Linked DNA regions of Homo sapiens. The protein of the gene in region 1 interacts with the protein of each later gene in a pairwise test. Each region holds a gene or a part of one and is shown on either strand. Other genes may lie near its edges. The genes, in order: ASB8 and CELF1.

The links.
Region 2: the proteins of ASB8 (region 1) and CELF1 interact in a two-hybrid assay, tested with the Homo sapiens proteins (one large-scale study listed by IntAct).

Annotation. Positions count from the first base shown.
Region 1 is NC_000012.12:48,150,934-48,154,753, forward strand, and holds part of ASB8 (ankyrin repeat and SOCS box protein 8), read right to left. Parts: intron 2,597-3,820; 5' UTR 2,564-2,596; coding exon 2,435-2,563; intron 733-2,434; exon of another isoform or gene 632-732; intron 373-631; coding exon 268-372; intron 1-267. UniProt on the Homo sapiens protein: May be a substrate-recognition component of a SCF-like ECS (Elongin-Cullin-SOCS-box protein) E3 ubiquitin-protein ligase complex which mediates the ubiquitination and subsequent proteasomal degradation of target proteins.
Region 2 is NC_000011.10:47,483,492-47,487,311, forward strand, and holds part of CELF1 (CUGBP Elav-like family member 1), read right to left. Parts: intron 3,751-3,820; coding exon 3,668-3,750; intron 3,308-3,667; coding exon 3,259-3,307; intron 1,033-3,258; coding exon 898-1,032; intron 42-897; coding exon 1-41. UniProt on the Homo sapiens protein: RNA-binding protein implicated in the regulation of several post-transcriptional events. Involved in pre-mRNA alternative splicing, mRNA translation and stability.

The DNA.
Region 1 (3,820 bases):
TTAAGGAGAAGAAAGAAAGGCAGAGTATCAGCACCATACAATGGGGGCAAGCAGGGTGGGGACAGAAAGGTAAAAGAATGAAATCCTTAGATCATTTTATATATTTACCATTACATTTTCCTTAATATTGGCTATGCCAACATTACCTTGAGTTAGAAGTTCAGACTGGAGGAGGGAAGAGATGGAGGAGTGATGGGGAGAAATTCTAAGAAAACATGAAGCTCAAGTTTTAGTGAGTCATTAATGTGAATGTGTTAAAAACATTACCTCGGCTCCTTTTTCCAGAAGTAACTCCACACAGTCAGCATCTGACACCATACAGGCACAGTGCAAGGGCTTCAGTGTGCCATGAGTGCAGTTCACATCTGCTCCCTGTGGGCAGAAGACAACTTCAGTCAGTGTGTTCAGCTCTGGCTTGCCCAGCAGGACAGAATTCAGAACTGAGTCCAGGGGACAGAGAGTTCTAACTCTCACTATTTTATAGATACAGTGCTAGTTCCTGTTTCCTTTTCTATTAATATTATGTCAATGTCCAAACCAAAGGAGTACACTGAAGATGAAGGAAAGGAACTGTTAATTCCTTAGATCAAGTTACTAAGTTTCTCCACAAGGGAGGCTGCCAGATGGTCACCTGGACATCACTGAAGACAATCTTATGTATCAAAGCACTGGAAACCTTATCATCAGGCAGGAAAGCTGGACCAGCAATCCACTTTCTATGGCCACCATGCTCTGGAAAAGTAGGAAAGTGAGTCTGTCAGACTGAGGCCAGAAATGGCATGCTCTTTTGTCCATTCAACAAATGACCATCATTAATAGTGGCATCATCTTAACACGGTTTTTCCTTTTTTATAAACATCTTCAAAGTAGCCTCTTAGTATCAGTATTCTTTACCATCTAGCCTTTGCTGGTGCTTCTATTCAAAATCAAAGGAGAGGCCGAGTACAGTGGCTCACACCTGTAATCCCAGCACTTTGGGAGGCTGAGGTGGGCAGATCACCTGAGGTCAGAAGTTTGAGACCATCCTGGCCGACATGGTGAAACCCGGTCTCTACTGAAAATACAAAAACTAGCTGGGTGTGGTGGCGGGCATCTGTAATCCCCGCTACTCGGGAGGCTGAGGCAGGAGAATCGCTTGAACCTGGGAGGCGGAGGTTGCAGTGAGCCAAGATCGCGCCATTGCACTCCAGCCTGGGCGACGAGCGAAACTCCGTCTCAAAAAAAAAAAAAAAATCAAGGGAGATGGAGATACCAGTCAGACCAAAGTCACTGAATGACTCAGCAGCAGAGCTAGAATTAGAATGTTACAAGGTTTCTACCGCGGAGTCTCCTGACACTACTTTTGCTGACAATAAGCTAACACTGCATGACTTTTCCTTCTTCAGTTGTGTCCAATAACTCTGAAGCAGCTACAGAGATCTAGGCTGTAAATGACGAGCCTGAAGTCTTAGAATATACACAAGTAACCATCTGGATGCATTTTCTGGTGATCAAAAACTGTGTAACTTCTCTTCAACAAGAAAAATAAATAGAAGAGGATAGTAAAGACCTTCTAGGATACTAGTCACATAACAATTATTGAAGGGCCATGATTAAACATCCGATGGTTAAGGTGTTTTCTTAAACTATAATTACCATGCATTTTAGAGGTTGATATCCTCTACAGAGCTAGAAGTGGTAGCTGCTTTTAACATAGAATGTAAGTAAAAAATCTCTCCATGTAATTATTGTAACCCAGGTATGAAGAAAGGCTCACAAGGATTTAAAAACCACCTCTGTAGCCAGGCACAGTGGCTTACACCTCTAATCCCACGACTTTGGGAACCCAAGGCAGGTGGGTTGCTTGAGCATGAGAATTCAAGACCAGCCTGGGAAACATGGTGAAACACCATCTCTACAAAAAATTAAAAAAAAAAAAATTAGCTGGACATGGGTGGCATGTGCCTGTAGTCCCAGCTACTTGAGGGGGCTGAGGTGGGAGGATCGCTTGAGCCCAGGAGGTCAAGGCTGCAGTAAGCCATGTTTGTGCCACTGCACTCCAGCCTGGGTGACAAAAGTGAAGCCCTGTCTCAACAAATAAAAATAAAAACCACCTCTGCTTTGCTCACCTCCTCCCTTAATAAAACATGTATAGAAGACTTTGAGCTCAATGGATTACATATGCATCGTACTCAGATATTTTACAAAGAACATGAGACTAGGGTTATTGAGAACATATTCCATGAAGAAAAATATCAGATACACAAAGTGAAAGGGAGAAGGGAAGCGAAGCAAACATAGGGGAAATACATTTTAATGATCAAGTTAATGCAGTTAGCAAAATGTAAAAACTCCCTGTGATCTTGGGTTGAGTCAAAGCTGCAAATCTGTGATCCATGAGGATTTTGCCCACTTCATATCGCAAGGACTCTCCTGTCAATACCAGCACACTCACCCCTCTGATGAGGTCCTCTACATTATCATGTGGGAAGGAACGGATGGCAGCAATTGTTCGGATTAAGCGCTCGGAGAGAGAGTATTTGCTCTGAATGCTCTGCATAATATACCACATACTGGAACTCATCAAGGCTCAAGGTGTTCACATGCTCCAAACTGCCTGAAACAAAGAAGTTTTCGGCATATACAATATCACTGAGCACACCTGTCTTTAGGGTTAGGTCTTCTCTGAGGCCTTCCCAATGCTAAAAGCAGATTTCAAGGAGTGATTAATACTATTTCCATAATCATAAGGAATTGGATTATAATAGTTGCCTAGGGAGTTGGATAAACCTGGACACAAATGTTCTACTCTAACCTAGTCTAGCACGAGATTTCCCCAAGAGGTACTAAGACCCCCGTGGAGCTCTGTGTGGTTTACAAACGACTAGGCAAGGAATAGGATTTTTAAAAGGCTGAAGAGGTCAAAAAACATTATTTTCCTTCTTTGAATTTTTGTGGTTTTTATGATCAGCACCACCATTAAGTTATTTATAACACTGGGCCTTGCAATATAGTTATGTACATATTGTTTCTCCATCGAAACTGTAATCAACTGGAAGGCAAGGACTTTGTCTTCTACTTTTTCACCCATGTAAGGCCAGCCACAGAATCTCACAAAAGGTAGGTATTTAACAAATATTGGTTGGTCGACTGACTAAACAGTATAGAAGTGATTGTTATGTGTGAAAAGAGAGGAAGAAGGCTATGGAGCAAATATATCTTAATAATGAAAAGTTATCTGAAACATTTTCAAATGTGTTCAGAAGAGGAAAAAAAGGAAATATTTGGCAGGGCGTGGTGGCTCATGCCTGTAATCCCAGCACTTTGGGAGGCCGAGATGGGTGGATCACAAGGTCAGGAGATCCAGACCATCTTGGCTAACACAGTGAAACCCCGTCTCTACAAAAAATACAAAAAAATTAGCTGGACGTGGTGGTGGGCGCCTGTAGTCCCAACTACTTGGGAGGCTGGGGCAGGAGAATGGCGTGAACCTGGGAGGCAGAGCTTGCAGTGAGCCGAGATCGGGCCACCGCACTCCAGCCTGGGCAACAGAGTGAGACTCTATCTCAAAAAAAAAAAAAAAAAAAAGGAAATATTTGAGGTAGTATTCTAAAATAGGTAAGGAAAGCAAAAGTATAACTACCCTGGAGTCATTTATATAAAACTAGGAAAAAATTAAAATTCAGAATAATAAAATGTACTTTCAGTTTTAGGAAAATTTGCAGATTTTAAAATGAGTTAAAGGTGGGGCGTGGTGGCTCACACCTGTAATCCCAGCACTTTGGAAGGCTGAGGTGGGTGGATCACCTGAGGTCAGGAGTTCGAGACCAGCCTTACCAAC
Region 2 (3,820 bases), on another chromosome or scaffold:
CTGTGCCATGGCTCTTGTTGTAAAAGTCACAAATGCACAACCTGGTAAGAGAAGAGTCAGTAACTCATGCATTCATTTATTTCTCTGACAAACATTAACTGAGCACCTACTATGTGCTGACTATCATGCTAGCAATACAGACACAGTCCCTGTTTTCAGGGAATCATGTGCTGGTATGTTGCAACAGGGTGATATGTGCTATAATGAAAAAACAGAACCACTGACAGAAAAAAAAAATGCTTGACAGGAGAAAGGAGGACTCATATCCTCTAGTTCCTCTTGAAAATAAAAGAAAATGGAAGAAGAAAGTATTTCCATTTTGGCATCAAGGATCTTGCAAAGCACCAAAAGAGAAAATTTTAATACATGACAATGAAATATAGAATGTAGACTCCTTAGAGGGGCTGGGAGACAAAAAGAATGAACTGATAGGAGGAGTCAAGACAGGACATAGATATACAGCAGGAAGCAGCAGGCCCAACCTCTTTATCTTGACTGGGCCATATTGGCTAGGGAATCACTGTTGCTAGTTTCCACCGGTCAAATTAAAAAGATTCCAAGCCCGGTGCAGTGGCTCACACCTACAATCCTGGCACTTTGGGAGGCCAAGATGACAGGATCGTTTGAGTCCAGGAGTTCAAGACCAGCCTGGGCAACACAGGGAGACCTTTTCTCTATAAAAAATTTAAAAATTAGCTGGGTGTCATGATGCATGCCTGTGGTCCCAGCTACTCAGGAGGCTGATCCTGGGAGGTTCAGGCTGCAGTGAGTTGTGAAGGCACCACTGCACTCCAGCCTGGGTGAGAGAGAGCAAGACCTTGTCTCCAAAAAAAAAAAAACCCCAAACCAAACCAAAACAAAAAACCAAAAGATTATTTAAAAGCTAAAACTACCTACCTCGGCTCAGGCCATCAGGTCCCCGCAATATCCGGCATTCTTCAATCTGTCCAAACGAAGAGAACATGACTCGGATGTCATTTTCAGTGCACTTCTTGGAAATCATACCAATAAACAGCTTCCTGTCTTCCACTGCTAAGAGAGTAAAACAGAAAAGACTTGAATATTACTACTTAAAGAGGCAATGTGGCACAGATTTGGGAGCCAGACCGCCTGGGTTTGAATCCTGGCTCTGTACCATATTTTACAGATTCAAAGACACACATTTGTTTTTTGTATTTTTCACATCTCTTTTTTTCTTGTTTTTGAGATGGAGTTTCGCTCTTGTTGCCCAGGCTGGAGTGTAATGGCGCGATCTCGGCTCACCGCAAGCTCCGCCTCCCGGATTCAAGTGATTCTCCTGCCTCAGCCTCCTGAGTAGCTGGGATTACAGGCATGCGCCAAAATGCCTGGCTAATTTTGTATTTTTAGTAGAGATGGGGTTTCTCCATGTTGGTCAGGCTGTTCTTGAACTCTCGACCTCAGGTGATCCACCCGCCTCGGCCTCCCAAAGTGCTGGGATTACAGGTGTGACCCACCACGCCCGGCTTCACGTCTCTTTTTATAACCAATGTTATCTTAAAATTATAATTAGAAGCATTTAGATGAAATATGGTAGCTTTGTAATCTTGTGAAAGTTACTCAACCATTCTGTGCCTGTTTCCTCATCTAACTAATAGGAATAATCAGGTTTACTTCAAAGGGTAGCAGTTGCTATTAAATGTGAAGTACTTGGCATCTTCCCTAGTCCTTTGTATTGTTTCCTCTTTTTGAGACAAGAGTCTCGCTGTCACCCAGGCTGAAGTGCGGTGGCATGATCATGGCTCACTACAGCCTTGACCTGCCGGGTTTAAGCAATCTTCCCACCTCAGCTTCCCGAATAGCTGGGACCACAGGTATGTACCACCACACCCAGCTAATTTTTTGCAGAGAGGTTTCACTCTTATTGCCAAGGCTGGTCTCAAACTCCTGGGCTTACGCAATCCTCCGGCCTCAGCCTCTTAAAGTGCTGTGATTACAGGTGTGCGCCACTGTGCCCAGCCAGCATTGTTTGCTCTTACTGGCAATACTACTAAAGAAAGAAGAGGTTTTCACACTTGATATGACAAGTGGAAGAGAATACACCTTTCAGTGAATGTAACTGTCTACTTTTCTGAATTTTTTTTTTTTTTGAGACAGAGTCTTGCTCTGTCACCCAGGCTGGAGTGCAGTGGCACGATCTCAGCATACTGCAACCACCGTCTCCTGGGTCCAAGCGATTCTCCTGTCTCAGCCTCCTGAGTAGCTGGGATTACAGGCATGCACCACCACACTCAGCTAATTTTTGTATTTTTAGTAGAGACAGGGTTTCACCATGTTGGCCGGGTGATCCGCCCGCCGTGCGCTCCCAAAGTGCTGGGATTACAAGCATGAGCCACCTCACCTGGTCCTGACTATCTTCTTGAGAATTAAGGCCAGGCGTGGTGGCTCACGCCTGTAATCCCAGCACTTTGGGAGGCCGAGGCGGGCGGATCACAAGGTCAGGAGATCGAGACCATCCTGGCTAACACAGTGAAACCCCGTCTCTACTAAAAATACAAAAAATTAGCCGGGCGTGGTGGCAGGCACCTGTAGTCCCAGCTACTCGGGAGGCTGAGGCAGGAGAATGCAGTGAACCCGGGAGGCGGAGGTTGCAATGAGCTAAGATCATGCCAGTGTACTCCCGCCCAGGCAACAGAGTGAGACTCCATCTCAAAAAAAAAAAAAAATTCGAGAATTAAGTTCTCCTTCCTAATTTGTTCATTTTGCCCCCTCATTCCTGTCCAAAAGAAATTATACTGACCAAGTATATTCCAGTTCATTCTACAATGTTCTTATAATATTTCTCTGTCAGCTCTGTTCTTCATCATACTTTTAAAGAAAAAACTGAGACAACTTAGACAACGGATTACTTAAAGCACAATTCAATTCAGATAACCTAAGAACAGCAAACAAACTAGGCAGAAATCTTTTTTTTTTTTGAGACAGAGTCTCACTCTGTTGCCTGGGCGGGAGTACACTGGCATGATCTTAGCTCATTGCAACCTCCGCCTCCCGGGTTCAAGAGATTCTCATGCCTCAGCCTCCTGAGTAGCTGGGATTACAGGCATGCACAACCATACCCAGCTAATGTTTGTATTTTTAGTAGAGACGGGGTTTCACCATGTTGGCCAGACTGGCTCGAACTCCGGCCTCAAGCAATCCATCTGTCTTGGCCTCCCAAAGTGCTGGGATTACAGGTGTGAGCCACCGTGCCTGGCCTAGGCAGAAATCTTAAGGGGAAGATTGTATACATTTGCTTACCATTGTTCTTCTCACTGTCAGCAGGTTTCATCTGTATAGGGTGATGCATCTGAAAAGGAAAAATATGATTATTATCACTGTATATATTGATGGTATTCAAAAATACATATGGACTCTAAAATACCAGAACTAGAGCTTTAAAGAGTTCTCTCTGAACTCATGTCTGCTTCATGATCTTTCCCCAGAAAACAGAATGTGAGTCAAGAAGTCAAAATACACAAGACTCTTGACTGAGAGAGAACTAATGTCAGGTAATCTCTGAACTGCTCCCTTTATGTCTTCCTTTACATCAATTCCTGCAGCAGTTACCTTTTCCCCAAAATGGTTTTCAGTGTGTGTCTGATATGTGTAAGTATATCCCACATATCAAAGTTACCACATTTCCATTTACTAGTGGGAGCTTTCTTACCCCTGGGAGGACTTTCATGTTGTGAAGAGCATTCTGAGCTTCTAATGCAGCTTTACGGGTGTAAAATGTAACAAAACAGCACCCTGCAATAAATAAGATTTCATAAAATCAAACTTTGGAAAGCAGAGAATTCCTAGAGCAATCCTTCCTCCA